2 separate regions of the Homo sapiens genome follow, and region 2 is linked to region 1. Evidence: fine-mapped expression QTL. Tissue or cell type: whole blood. Region 1 holds a variant in brackets; the other region holds the start of a gene. All regions are shown on one strand. Distances are between the middles of the regions.

Evidence for each region. PIP is the estimated chance that this variant, and not a neighbour inherited with it, causes the effect.
Region 2: it holds the start of RNF187, and the variant in region 1 is fine-mapped to the expression of RNF187 in whole blood (TOPMed, PIP above 0.99).

What each region holds. Positions count from the first base shown.
Region 1 is chr1:228,441,772-228,449,301 of GRCh38, forward strand. It overlaps LOC124904538 (a long non-coding RNA gene), which reads right to left and starts at 3,261. Exons shown (of 2, transcript XR_007066919.1): 1 at 1-3,261. It also overlaps the pseudogene RPL23AP15. The variant G/C (reference allele first, on the strand shown) is at 3,978.
Region 2 is chr1:228,483,262-228,490,791 of GRCh38, forward strand. RNF187 (ring finger protein 187) reads left to right here and starts at 4,121. Exons shown (of 4, transcript NM_001010858.3): 1 at 4,121-4,617; 2 at 5,699-5,791. The coding sequence starts at 4,228. RefSeq lists enhancers at 2,999-3,860, 3,180-3,559, 3,861-4,721, 4,839-5,567, 5,568-6,295 and 1 more and silencers at 4,180-4,299, 4,560-4,759.

The DNA of each region.
Region 1 (7,530 bases):
TCACATGTAAATGTATTCCAATTAGGTCTTTCCAGGACTCAAAGGTGCTCAAGTGCACAGCGTCTGTAAACTGGCCAGGACTAGCCCAAGGTCGTGGTCTCTCATCAGCAGAAAGCTCTTGAAGTCAGTGTCTTGTCCAGTGAATGCTGCCATCATGGCTGGTGGAGCAGGGGGTCGGAGAGTCAGCCTCTGTGAGCTGGGTAAGCTGCAATTGTCTTAATGTTGCTTAGCTGGAGGCCAGTGCTTGGTTAGCTGCTGGAGTAAAAGAAAACCCTTGCAGCAGTGAAAACATGGTTTATTCTTTAAGTGTAGGGTGCTGACTTAACCCTTAGGTCTTGTTTATAATTTGTCACCTTATTGCCACAAAGACTCCATCCTGTGTCTGTGTTTTTTTAAAAAATTCTCTTAACCTCACCTGGACTGTCTCTATGTTAACATGAATGCTGTCAGTTGTGTCTAAACCTCAACAGAAAGGGGTATAATGAGATGTGTCTGACTCCCACCCTATCATGGCCAGAAACTCAGTTTTTAAGGTTCTATGGGGTCCCTTTTACCAACAGAGTGTCTGTGCAGTTGGTTAGGGGTGCTTAGGATTTTATTTTTAGTTTACAGTCTCTAAATCAGGAGACACAGACCGGCTGGCCTATTTGTAGATATGCCAATTAGCATCCAGTGAAGGCTGGCCCCGGGTTTATGTGAAATGAGGAGGGTGAAACCCCAACCTGCAAGACCCTGGGCCCAAATTGCAGTAGCAACAATGCCAAAGTTGCAGCATTTTTCACAAAACAACTCTCACCTATTATTTTCCTTGAATTTCTTGTCATAGCAAGTGCGGAAGATTCACCAGAACCATCAGGCAGAACCACACATTTGTTTTCAGAAATGTCTTTCCTTTCTTTCCACAATGTTGCTTTGGCTTAAATGTTTGTGTCAGAGACGTGTGAACCAGAGCAACTCCATCTTGAATAGGGGCTGGGTAAAATAAGGCTGAGACCTGCTGGGCTGCATTCCCAGGAGATTAAGGAGGTTAAGGCATTCTAAGTCACAGGATGAGACAGGAGGTTAGCACAAGATACAGGTCATAAAGACGCTGCTCATAAAACAGGTTGCAGTAAACAAGCTGCCCCAAACCCACCAAAACCAAGATGGCGATGAGAGTGACCTCTGGTCATCCTCACCACTACACTCCCACCAGTGCTATGACAGTTTACAAATGCCATGGCAACATCCAGAAGTTACCCTATATGGTCTAAAAAGAGGAGAAACCCTCAGCTCTGGGAATTGCCCACACCTTTCCTGGGAGACTCATGAATAATCCCCACCTTATTTAGCATATAATCAAGAAATAAACATAAAAATGGGCAACCAGCGCACCATGCCACTGCTCTGCCTATGGATTAGTCATTTTTTATTCCTTTACTTTCTTAATAAACTTGCTTTCACTTTATGGATTTGCCTCAAATTCTTTCTTGCACCAGATCCAAGAACCCTTTTTTGGGGTTTGGACTGGGACCCCTTTCGGGTAACATTTGTGTCCCCAGCCCAAACTCATCTGTGGAAGCCCCAACCCTCAATGTGAGGATGGCATAGGAGGTGGGGCCTTGGGGAGATAATTAGGTCATCAAGGTGGAGCCCTCACTGATGGGATTAGGGCCACTGTAAAATGGACTCCAGAGAGCTGCCTCACCCCTTCCATCACATGAGGTTGCAACCACAAGACTGCACTCTACAGCCCAGAAGAGGACCCTCACCAGACCCCAGCCCTGCTGACACCTTCATCTTGAACTTTCAGCCTCCAGACTGTGATCAAAAATTCTATTGTCTACAAATTGCTCAGTCTCTGGTGTTTTGTCATAGCAGCTTGAAGTGACTGAGACAAATGTCCTCACTTGAGGATGAGGCATCAGCATTATCATGGAAGGACTACCAATGATCATGGTGACTTTTTTTCTTCTTTATTTCTTTAAACTGACAAAAATTGTATATATGGTGTACAAGGTACTGTTTTGAAATATGTATTGTGTTGGGAATATGGATTGGGGAATGGCTAAATCAAGCTAATTAACATAGACATTACCTCACATATTTATTTGTGGTGAGAACACCTAAAATCTACTCTCTTAGCAATTTTCATGTACTACATTGCTGTGAATTATAGTCATTGTGTTGTACATTAGATGTCTTGAACTGACTCCTCCTGTGTCAGCGTGCCCTAGCCCCCTCCTGTGCCCTTTAGTCAGCGTCTCTGGCCCCCAGATCCTGGTGACCATCATTCCACTCTCTGCTTTATGATATCAACCTCTTTAGATTCCGCATAGAAGTGAGATTATGCAGTGTTTGTCTTTCCATATCTGGCTAATTTCACTTAACGTAATGTTCTCATTTCACCCCTGTTGTCACAAATGAGGGAATTTCATTATGTTTTAAGGCCGGAATAGTATTTCATTGTACATATGTACCATATTTTCTTTACTCATTCATCCGACAATGGATACTTAGGTTAACTCCATGTCTTGGTTATTGTAAATGGTGCTGCAGTGAACATGGTGCAGATCTCTCTTCTGGATACGGATTTCATTTCCTTTAGATATATCCCCAGCAGTGGGGTTGCTATATCGTTTGGGAATTCTATTTTGAATTTAATAATGTTTTCCATAATAACTGTACTATCACGGTGATTTTGAAGATCAATATATCTCCACAGGGTAGACAGCTACACCATCATTAAAAAAAGAGAACAGTGGCCGGGCGTGGTGGCTCATGCCTGTAATCCCAGCACTTTGGGAGGCCAAGGCGGGCAGATCACAAGGTCAGGGATTCGAGACCAGCCCGGCCAACATGGTGAAACCCCATCTCTACTAAAGATACAAAAAATTAGCCAGGCATGGTGACGCAGCGCCTGTACTCCCAGCTACTTGGGAGGCTGAGGCAGGAGAATCGCTTGAACCCAGGAGGCAGAGGTTGCAGTGAGCCGAGATCGCACCATTGCACTCCAGCCTGGGGGACAGGGTGAGACTCCATCTAAAAAAAAAAGAGAACAGTGAAAATGAGAGACAAAAGTAGCTGATTCCCAGCTTCAATTTTGTCTATAATACTAATTTTCATGAAGAGCAACATAAACTCCTTGGAGTGCAGTTAAGTCCATATCTGGAGTCAAAAAAACAAAAATTCAAAACAAAACAAAACACCCATGATAGGTCTGAAATAACTTTTTGCTGTCAGAAAGCAAAGATGAGCCGGGTGCCAGTGGCTCACACCTGTAATCCCAGCACTTTGGGAGGCCGAGGTTAGAGTTCAAGGCCATCCTGGGCAATATAGGGAGAACCTGCCTACAAAACAAAACAAAACAAAAACAAAAACAAACAAACAAAAAAAACCAAAAACACGCACACACACACAAAACAAAAAACCAATTAGGCGCTGTGGTACTCACCTGTAGTACCAGCTACTTGGGAGGCTGAGGCGGGAGGATTGCTTGAGCCAGGAGTTTTGAAGCCACAGTGAGCCTGATTAGGCGGCAGAGCTAGACCCCGTCTCAGCAAAACAAAAACAAAACAAAAACAAAAGCAAAGGTGCTTCCAACAATCAGGGTGATCCTAAAATGACAGAGCAGCGTTTTGAAAATACCTCCCCGGGGCTGCAATGTGACCATTTGAGCACTAAAAACAACCATACAAATGGTTAATTAGAACATGCCCCATTTATAAAAGGAGGAAAGTTAACATACACGTTTCTAATAAGACAACAAAAGGATGGAAATAACATTGTGTTGAATTTTTGTTGATTTTGTTAAAAAGGAGCGCGTTGACACATAGGGGGATTTTGTTTCTTTAAGTTCATGTCTGTTTATATAAAGTTTAGGTCTGGGTGTGTGTGTGTACCTGTGTAAGCAGGAAAGAGTAAACAAAATCGAGAGCCCGGGACAAATGCACTTAAGAAGGGGCGACGGGAGGGCCAGGCTCGCCGGGCTGAGTGCT[G/C]AGGAGGGGGCGCGTCCCACCCATGCAAGCCCGGAACAAAGGCGCCTGTCACTCGTCACTCTCCACGCGGGCTGGCTCTGGAAAGCCCAAAGGAAAAAACCCTCACTTTCAGGAAGAATAAGCCTCAGCCCATGTATCTAGGGAACACGTGATGCTGCAAGAAACCAGTGACTTAACGCGTGTAAAAGCAGGAGAGCGTCAGAGGTTCTGACCCCGGGGGAGGAGCAGACCCGCGGCAGCGTGCGGAGACTTAGCGGGCGGAATCTGCCACCAACGCAACCTGGCCCAGAGGTTTTGAACTGACCAACTGGGAGACGTCCCCGAGCTTGAATAAGGGCCTCAAAAGCTTAGCGTTTTATGCAGAGTCGCAACCACCCAGCGCTGGGAACCTGAGCCTGCACAACCCACTAGAAAGCACCCGTGACCGTCCCCTGCGCCCGTTATCCCTGCGCCCCGCACCCCTGTATCCCCGGCTTCTCTGCAGCTGTACACCCTGCACTGCGGCGCCCCCCAGTCCCGCTGTCCGCTCCATCGCGCAGGTCTCCAAAACGAATCCCGGCTTGGAGGGGCTCAGCGGCCCTGGGCCTGTGCGCCGTTGCGGCCGGGAGGGTCATTTTCATGCCTAAGGACCCGCCCCTTGCACGCAACCTCGGGTAGCCAGCCGGAAACGGCGTCCCGGGCTCCAAAGGACATCTCTTTTTACATTTCAGCAAAACAGCCGCACACCTTCTCCCCAGATGGCCTCTGTGCAGCCTGAAAATGCCCGCTCCCTCCAAGTCCCTGGGCAATTGCTGGGACGCATCTCAGAGACTGCGCGGGGCGGAGAAGGGGTATGTGTTTGGGCCACTAATTTGATTTTCTTGGAAACTTTCTTCCAGTCCAAACCGGAGTCAGCTCCTCTCACCCTTGTAGAAAAGCATCCCGTGGGGGCGGGGCGGGGTGGGTTGGGGCCCAGCGTTGGGGGGTTGGGGGGGCGGTCAACACACCACCCTCCCGCCCTTTGTTAAGCTATTGAAGTTCAATTTCATTCCTTCTCCGTCTTCCATTGACCAGAGAGGAAAGGAATCCTTTGAATTTTTTTTTTAAGTTCATCAAATATCCATTTAGCATCTACTATGTGCCAGGCATAGCTGTTAGTACTTGGGGTGAACGCATCAGATGAAAACATGCCTCCCTGGAGCTTGCAATTTAGTGGAGGAGGAGGTGAGAGTAAACGTGAGGTGATGGCACGGTGTTGGAGGGGTGTTCACTATAGGCAGAGGGCGCCAGGAGGCCGGTGGTCGCGTAGGACAGGGAAGGCTGCAGTTGGAGAGCAAACCTGGAGGAGCAGCCGCGGTAAGGCCCAGAGTGCGAAGACGCCGCGTCTAAGGGCAGCAGAGGGGACCTGGAACTGGAGGGTTGGAAGAAGGGTGGTCACAGGCAAGCAGAAGGGGGCCTCAGAAAGACTGGACCTTGTTTTGAGTTTTTGGAGGAACCTCCGTCCTATTTTCCGTGATGGCTGCACCAGTTTACATTCCCCTCAACAGCGTGCGAAGGGTCCCTTTTCTCCACATCGTGACCAACACTTGTTGTCTCTTGTCTTTTTGATATTAGCCATTCTAACAGGTGTTCGGAGACATTTCATTCTGATTCTGATTTGCATTTTCCTGAATTTTATTTATTTATTTATTTTTTGCGACAGGGTCTCCCTCTGTGGCCCAGGCTGGAGTGCAGTGGTGCAATCTCGGCTCACTGCAACCTAGACTTCCCGGGCTCGAGGGATACTCCCGCCTCAGCCTCTGGACTAGATGGGACCTCAGGAACGACCACGCCCCGCTGATTTTTAAAAATTTTTTGTACAGACGGAGTCTTCCTATGTTGCCCAGGCTGGTCTCCAAAGCCTGGGCTCTAGCAATCCTCCCACCTTAGGCTCTGGGATTAGAGGCATGAGCCACCCTACCGACCCTCCTAGATTAGTAATGTTGAACACCTATTCATATGCCTGTTGGCCATATGTATGCCTTCTTGGGAGAAATGCCTATTTAGGTCCTTTGTCTATTTTTAAAGTTAGGTTATTTGGTTCTTGTTTTGGTTTTGTTTTTTGCTAATAAGTTGTAGGAGCTCTTATATATTTTGGGTATTAACCCCTTACCAGATGTTTGGTTTGCAAATGTTTTCACCCATCCATAGGTTGCCTTTTAATTTTGTTGATCCAGCCATCTCACTTCTGAGTATGCCCAATGGAAATAAAATCACTGTCATAAAGAGATACTTGCACTCCCATGTTAATTACAGCACTATTCATAATAGCTGAGATACAGAAACAACCTAAATGTCCATCAGTGAATGAATAAAGAAAACGTGGTATAGATATTAGTGTTACATGCTATACTACACTATAATAATGAAAATTATTCAGGTCTAAAAAAGAAGGAAACCATGTCAACAACATGGATGAACCCAGAGGACATTATGCTAAGTGAAATAAGCCAGGCACAGAAAGACAAATAATACTGCATGAGCCAACTTATATATGGAATCTAAAAAAGTCAGGGGCTGGGTGAGGAGGAGTACAAAGCTTCAGCTATAAGATAAGTAGTTCTGGAGACCTGAAGCACAGCATGGAGACTCTGGTTAATAACATATCATGGACATAAAATTTACTGAGTAGATCTTACATGTTGTCACCGCACACACAGACACATGCACACACACACAGGTAACCACATGAGGTGATGTGTGTGTTAATTGATTTGACTGTGGTAATCATTTCACCACGTGACATGTACCAAGACATCATGCTGTGCACCTTGAATATGTACGAGCTTTATTTGTAGATCATACTGTCAGAGGCATTTGAGTTAGAGCAACTCCATCTTGAATAGGGGCTGGGTAAAATAAGGCTGAGACCTGCTGGACTGCATTCCCAGGAGGTTAGGCATTCTAAGTTACAGGATGAGATAGGAGGTCGGCACAAGATATAGGTCACAAAGACCTTGCTAATGAAACAGCACGCGGTAAAGAAGGCAGCCAAATCCCACCAAAACCAAGATGGCGACTAATGTGACCTCTGGTCGTCCTCACTGCTCATTATAATACATTAATTATCATTAATTATAAGTAAAAGATACTCCCAACAGCATCATGACAATTTACAAATGCCATGGAAACATCAGGAAGTTACCCTATATGGTCTATAAAGGGAAGGAACCCTCAGGTCCAAGAATTGCTCACCCCTTTCCTGGGAAACGCATGAATAATTCACCCCTTGTTTAGCATATAATCAAGAAATGACCATAAAAGTGGCCAACCAGTAGCCCTCAGAGCTGCTCTGCCTATGGAGTAGCCATTCTTTTATCCCTTCACTTTCTTCCTTTTTTTTTTAATGGTGAAAATATATGCATATATTTAGAATTAGCCAGCTGGACTCAGTTTAGATGATCCCAATTTTGTTGGTAACATCCAAAGCACTGTAATCAGGAGCCAGTTGAACATATGCTCTCCATCAGGCTGATCAGGGTGTTGACCTTGGCCACATTAATGTCACAGAGCTTCTTCACAGCCTGTTTGATCT
Region 2 (7,530 bases), 41 kb after region 1:
TTGTATAGACACAGTAAATAAATGTGTCTGCCTTTTCTCCAATTGATCTGCCTTTTGCAATTTTTCTTTCTTTTTTTTTTTTTTTTGAGACAGAGTCTGGCTCTGTCACCCAGGCTGGAGTGCAGTGATGCTATGTCAGCTCACTGTAGCCTCCGTCTCCTGGGTTCAAGCGATTCTCCTGCCTCAGCCTCCCGAGTAGCTGGGACTACAGGCATGCAGCACCATGCCCAGCTAATTTTTGTATTTTCAGTAGAGATGGGGTTTCACCGTGTTGGCCAGGATGGTCTCCATCTCCTGGCCTTGTGATCTGCCAGCCTCGGCCTCCCAAAGTGCTGGGATTACAGGCGTGAGCCACCGCGACCAGCCTTTTGCAATTTTTCATCAAAATTTGAGAGGACCAAGGGTTCCCCTTGGCACCTACACCAGCCACCCTGTCTTGGGAAGTGGGGATGCTGGCACCACACAATGTGGATTCTGCTGGTGGTAAGGGAGAGAGGCTTTCAGGCAACAATCTTTGCCAGTGTATACTTCCAAAAGTCTCTAATGCACACATGTGCAAGTTCATGGCTGCTACCATTTGCTAAGCCATGCCCCTAGTATTGGACCTTCAAGGTTTTTTTTTTTTTCTCCAAAATGAATAGTGATATGACATACATTTCTCTTTCTTTCTTCTCTTTCTTCCTCTCCCTTCCTCCCTCCCTCCCTTCCTTTCTCTCTTTCTTTCCTTCCTTCTTTTTCTCCTTCCTTCCTTCCTTTTCTTTCTTTCCTTCCTTTCTTCTTTTTCTTTTCCCTTTCTTCCTTCCTTCCTCTCTCCCTCCACTCCTTCCTTCTCTCCCCCACCCCCCGCCCCCACCTCTCTCTCTCTCTCTCTCTCTCTTTCTTTTTTTTAAGACAAGGTCTTAAAAAATTCTCTCATTTCCCAGGCTGGAGTGCAGTGGCATGATCACGGCTCACTACAGGCTCAATCTCCTGTGCTCGGGTGATCCTCCCACCTCAGCCTCCCAAGTAGTTGGGTCCACAGGTGCGTGCCACCACGCCCAGCTAAATTTTAAAAATTTTCTGTACAGACAGGTTCTTGCCATGTTCCCCAGGCTGGTGTTGAACTACTGGGCTCAAGCTATCCACTCACCTCAGCCTCCCAAAGTGCTGGGATTAACAGGCATGAGCCACCTCTCCCAGCCACATTTCTAAACAAAACAAAACAGCCCAATTTTTTACAACCCAATTTTTATTATTTTCATTTCCTGTTATTTTTATAGTTTGTTTTCTAAGAAAAGGAATTCCAATCAGAAAATCCTTAATCGATACTGCTACGTGGATTACAAGAAGCAGTATTCACAGAATCAAGTGTTTTTTTTGTTTGTTTGTTTTCTGTTTTTTGTTTTTTTGAAATGGAGTTTCACTCTGTTGCCCAGGCTGGAGTGCAGTGGTGTGATCTCGGCTCACTGCAACCTCCACCGCCCAGGTTCAAGCGATTCTCCTGCCTCAGCCACCCAAATAGCTGGGATTACAGGCACGTGCCACCATGCCTGGCTAATTTTTGTATTTTTTTTTTTTTTTTGAAACTGAGGGAGTCTTGCTCTGTCGCCAGGTTGGAGTGTAGTGGCATGATCTCGGCTCACTGCAACCTTCGTCTCCCGGTTCCAGCTATTCTCCTGCCTCAGCCTCTCAAGTAGCTGGGACCACAGGCGTGCACCACCATGCCCAACTAATTTTTGTATTTTTAGTAGAGACGGGGTTTCACCATGTTGGCCAGGATGGTCTCGATCTCTTGATCTTGTGATCCACCTGCCTCAGCCTCCCAAAGTGCTGGGATTACAGGCGTGTGCCACCACATCCAGCCTAATTTTTGTATTTTTAGTAGAGATAGGGTTTCACTATGTTGGCCAGGCTGGTCTTGAACTCCTGACCTCAGATGATTCACCCGCCTCGGCCTCCCAAAGTGCTGTGTTTACAGGCCTGAGCCACGGCTCCCGGCCAAGTTTCCTTTTTTTTGTTTGGTCTGCTTACTTAATAGTGGAAAGAAAGAGAGTCTCGTTTTATTTTCCTCTTTCTTAACTGGGCAGAGTGTACATTTTTTTCTCATGTGTGTTCAATCATTTGTGTGCTTTTTTTTTTGTGATTTGAAAAATCCCATGACAAGGTGTATTTTCCATCATGCTTTTCCTTACCTAATTTTATAAACTCTTTGTATATTTGTGGTTACAATGTTCCTAATTTGGCTATTTGCCTTTAATTATAATTTTTGATATTTTCTCATTCACAAGATTAGTTCATTATGAAGTTTGCTCATTTTTTATATTTTTTACTTTTCTCTCCAGCAAGTTCCTAGTTGACTCAACAATATCAGCAAGGCTCGGCTGGAAGCCTCTAATCTTTACTACACAGAAATAACCTCGGTTTACTATTCATGTTTCCCACGGGCATCTAGTGCATTTCCAAGTCGATTTAAAAAATCTTCACAAAGACAAAAATACCTCATTAGATCCTGCGCTTGCTTGGAATACAGATTTATAAAAATTTTTTTTTGTTTTTGTTTTTTAAGACAGAGTCTCGCTCTGTCGCCAGGCTAGAGTGCAGTGGCACGATCTTGGCTCACCGCAACCTCCGACTCCCTGGTTCAAGTGATTCTCCTGCCTCAGCCTCCTGAGTAGCTGGGATTACAGGCATGCGCCACCACGCCCGGCTAATTTGTGTATTTTTAGTAGAGACGGGGTTTCACCATGAGCCAGGATGGTCTCATATCTTGACCTTGTGATCCGCTCGCCTCGGCCTCGCAAAGTGCTGGGATTAGAGACGTGAGCCACGGCGCCCGGCCCAGATTAATTTTTTAAAATGCAAAACTTGCACAATCTTATTTTAACCATGCTTGCTTGTTTTCAAAATAATTAAAAAACAAAAACACAAGATTGCTCTTCCCAAAGGCTTATTTCTTTCCTTTAAATTTATTTTTTAAAGAAAAGCTAACGGCCGGGTGTAGTGGCTCACGCCTGTAATCCCAGCACTTTGGGAGGCAGAGGCGGGTGGATTACGAGGTCAGGAGTTCGAGGCCAGCCTGGCCAACATGGTGAAACCCCGTCTGTACTAAAAATACAAAAATTAGCCGGGCGTCGTGGCAGGCGCCTGCAATACCGGCTACTCGGGGGGCTGAGGCAGGAGAATCGCTTGAACCCGGGACGCGGAGGTTGCAGTGAGCCGAGATCGCGCCACTGCACTCAAGCCTGCCTGGCAACAGAGCGAGGCTGTCTCAAAAAAGAAAGAAAAGCAAAGCAAAGCTAACAAATGCTCTTCTGTCATGCATCATCACAGAATCAATGAGAGCTCCCCCCAGCCAGGAGACAGCGGACAACCAGGGTAGCTTCCCAGGGGGCCAGAGGGAGGCTGCGCGAGAAGAGGCTCAGCGGGATGGGTCCACGCAGGGAGATCCCACGCAGGGTGGGCGTATACGAGTGTCCACGTCCGGAGGGCCGTTCAAGGGCGGGTCCCTGAAGGAAGGGTGCACGCAGGGCACGTCCACGCGGGCAGGCCCGTGCACGCAGGGCGTGCCCATGCAGGGCGGGTCCGTGCAGGATGAGAGCAGCGGAGGAGGCCCACGCAGGCCATTTCCCGCCCCGTCCCCAGCCCACGCGGGCGAGCTACCGCGGGGGTACGCGCAGCTCAGATCCTAGCAGCTTACAAAAACAACCTTTTAAAAATGGAACCTTCAAGTAAAAATAAAACTTTGTTTCCCTCTTTCGCAGGAGTTACTGAAGTAGGAAGGGACAGCCCAGTAAGATTTCAGGATACGACTTGGGCCGGTCCGCAGGCAGTAGAGTGAAGCGCGCAGCTGCCAGGACTTGCGCGGTGACGTGCGCCGCTGCCAGGACCTTGCAGGTGGAGAGCATAGTTGCCAAAATCAAGGCGGAGGAGCGCACCGCCGCTAGGATCCAGGCGGAGAAGCCCACCGCGGCCAGGACCTAAGGATGCAGTACACTGCTGCCAGGATCTTGTCTGTGGAGCGCAGCGCGGCCAGGACCTCCGGCTGCAGCACACCGCTGCCAGGATCTTATCGGCAGAGCGCTCCGCGGTCCGGACCCCGCCCCGTGCGCGTCCCCGACCCCGCCCCGTGCGCGTCCCCGGCGTTGGCGTCTTCGTCCTGTTGCTGGTCTCCGTCCGGTCGCCGGCCGTCTAGGTCTCCGGCCCTCCCCAGCCGCTCCTGCGCCCTTGCCGGCCCCGCCGCCCGCAGCCCTGGCGCTCCCTGCGGGCCCCGCCGAGGCCGCCTGCGCCCTGTGCCAGCGCGCGCCCCGGGAACCGGTGCGCGCCGACTGCGGCCACCGCTTCTGTCGGGCGTGCGTGGTGCGCTTCTGGGCCGAGGAGGACGGGCCCTTCCCGTGCCCCGAGTGCGCCGACGACTGCTGGCAGCGCGCCGTGGAGCCCGGCAGGCCCCCGCTCAGCCGCCGCCTTCTGGCGCTCGAGGAGGCGGCCGCGGCGCCCGCGCGCGACGGCCCGGCCAGCGAGGCCGCGCTGCAGCTGCTGTGCCGCGCCGACGCCGGCCCGCTCTGCGCCGCCTGCCGTATGGCTGCGGGCCCCGAGCCGCCCGAGTGGGAACCGCGCTGGAGGAAGGCGCTGCGCGGCAAGGTGCGCGCCGCGGGGTCCCGTGCCCCACCCCGGACGGTGCCCTGCGCCTCTCCGCCCCCGCCCCGGTCCCCCTGAGCCCTGGGCCCTTCCCGTCTCCACTGTTCCTGTCCCCGGATTGTCCCCGTCCCCGGATTGTCCCCCTCCCCTCACCGCCACGGGTCCCCTCTCCAGCGTGTGCTGGGCCCCTCCCTCCTGCGGCTTGCCTCCCCATATTTCCTGCGTCTCTTCGGAGTCTGGTCCCCTTCCCCGTCTTGGTGTCCCCTGCTGGGCGGTGCCTTATCTCCCCACCCCCTACCTTCTACGAAGTCCTTCCCCCACCAGCGCCCATCTTTGTGGTCCCATCACTAGCTGTGCCCTGTCTCGCCCTCATAGACCCCCTCTAGTTCCTACAGATTGACTCCTCCACTCACTCTTCCCTTGGGGGAGACATCACGCCTCTTGCCCCTCTGTATTCCACTGTGTCCACAGGCCTGGCCCACCTTCTCGTCTGCTCCCCGGGCCACCCAGCCCTCGCCTGCACCCCCTGTCCCCTCTCCCATCTTTCAGAAACCCGCTCTGAGAGTCTGGCAGCAGCGGGTCCGGGAGTCTGGAGCCTTGCCCATGGCGGGTTGGTTGTGGGACACAGAATAGGAGACAACAGCCAGCCTGGGGTCCTGCTCTTCAATACAGGGGAGGGGAAGCCAGCCAGACTGTGTCCCTGGGTGCTCCTCCTGCATTGGGGGTCCTGCCACCGGGCAGAGCGACCCCCATCCGGCTCAGGCAGGGCAGGGTGTAGGGCAGGCTGTGCAGACCTTTGGTACAGGCCGAACTCACACTGAACAGGGCCACTTACAGACACAGAACTCCTAAACCCACCTAGACAGTCCCCTTAGCCCCAGCACCCAGATCCTTCTGAATAGGTGTGAAGCCCAAGAAACCTTTTGACTGCCTGTGCGTTCCTGCCCTAGACAACCGGGCTTCGAGGTTATCTCTGGGATGGTCAGACTGTGTGCAGTCAGCTGGGGTGATGTCCCTCAGTACTGGGCTGGGTTGGGGGACCCAGAGCTTCTGCCCACCCCTGGTGACCTTCTTTTCTTTACAGGAGAACAAGGGGTCTGTGGAAATCATGAGAAAGGACTTGAATGACGCCCGGGACCTGCATGGCCAGGCAGAGTCAGCAGCTGCAGTGTGGAAGGCAAGTGGGGGGACCTGGGGCAGCCTGGAATGAGGGGACTGTGGGCTCAGGGCTCTAGACAAAGGGACCACCAGGCCAAGTGGGCCAGGCCTCTGAACTGCTCAGCTGGTTGGTTGGAGGAGGGGCCTCTGGACTTAAGTGAGCTTCAGGGTATTTTTTTTAGGATGTGTTTGTATTTCTCAAATAGAATCTAGCCAAAGCCAGTGGAAGCCTCTTTTTCTCCTCACATTTTACCTGTAGGTGATGGCAGCATCAGACTTCTTTTTTTTTTCCCAAGAGACAGAGTCTCACTTCATTACCCAGGCTGAAGTGCAATGGCATGATTGTAGCTCACTGCAGCTCGAACTGGCCTCAGGCGATCCTCCCACCTCAGCCTCTGGGACTATAGGCACGTGCTACCACACCTGGTTAATTTTAAAATGCTTTTCTAGAGGTGGGGGTCTTGCTGTGTTGCCCAGGCTGGTCTCAAACTCCTGACCTTAAGCGGTTCTCCCGCCTTGGCCTCCCAAAGTGCTATTTTTTTTTTCTTTTTTAGAACACATCTGTAATTTTCTGTGGTCCTCTTGTTCTGATCTGAGAGTTGCTCATTATTTTTTAGAGGCTAGAAGTCCAAGATGAAGGAACTGGCAGATTCCCTGTCTGGTGAGGGCGTTTCCTGGTTCATAGATGGTGTCTTCTCACTGTGTCCTCACATGGTGGAAGAAGTGAGGGTGTCTCTGGGGCCTTTGTGTAAGGACACTGATTCCGTTCTTGAGAGTTCCACCCTCACAACCTCATCACCTCCCAAGGGTCCTGCCTCCTAACGCCATCACCTGAGGGATGAGGATTTCAGCATGGGGATTTGGGGAGGACACAGACATTCAGACCAGAGCAGCGTTACTTTCCTTGGGTGCCTTCCACAGTATTATATCCCAAGGGGACATCCCATAGATTCTTTTAGGTTACTCACCAGTAAAGCTCTTTAGTCGTTTAAACTCTATTTGGTGACTTTTTCCTCGTGTAGTAAAAACCTGTGTGCCATTTTCTCTGCGTTTCATAAATTCCTATCTCCTTCTTTTAACCTGAAAGACAGAGTGCTTTTCACAGGTGCAGCAGCTCTTGGGTAACTGGCTGCATCTCGAGGCTGAGGCCCACGTTTTTACCCCAGCTTGAGGCTGAGGTGGGCTCTGTGCTCCTGGTGCTGCCAAGCCCTTGCCTGCTATCCACAGGCCTGAGGTGCAGGCCTCCCTCAGACAGTGACGGGTTACACATGGGGTCCCTGATGCCACTCAGACCCCTGGCACTCCACACTGCCCTTGGGGCTGCTCTGAACTTCTCCTTGCCTTGTGAGTGGTCAACACTGCCCAGTGCAAGTGAGGCTGGAAGGCTTTGGGGACCTCCAAGTTTTCAGTAACCCTGTGTTACCCCAAGGGAATTGTTTTGCCCACAGATTTTAGCAGGTTGGAGCTTTCAATCTGTCCTGTTTTGGGGGTTTGTGGCTTAGATGCTGGGATGAGAGAAGCCACCTAAATCCAAAGGAAGGAGTTTGCAGCGTGTTGCATCAGCCAGCCAGCAGACACCCAGCTGTCATTTGCATTCTCAGCAACAAAAGCCTTGGCCCCTCATGACTATGGGTGTCACCTGCCCTGTGTGGCCCAGGGCCAGGTGGAAGCCATCCATGACTGAGTAAAATCAGAGTAGCATCCTGCTCTGCTCTCCTGTTTGCAAGGTTAGGAGTTGGCTGAAAACCAGCTGAAGAG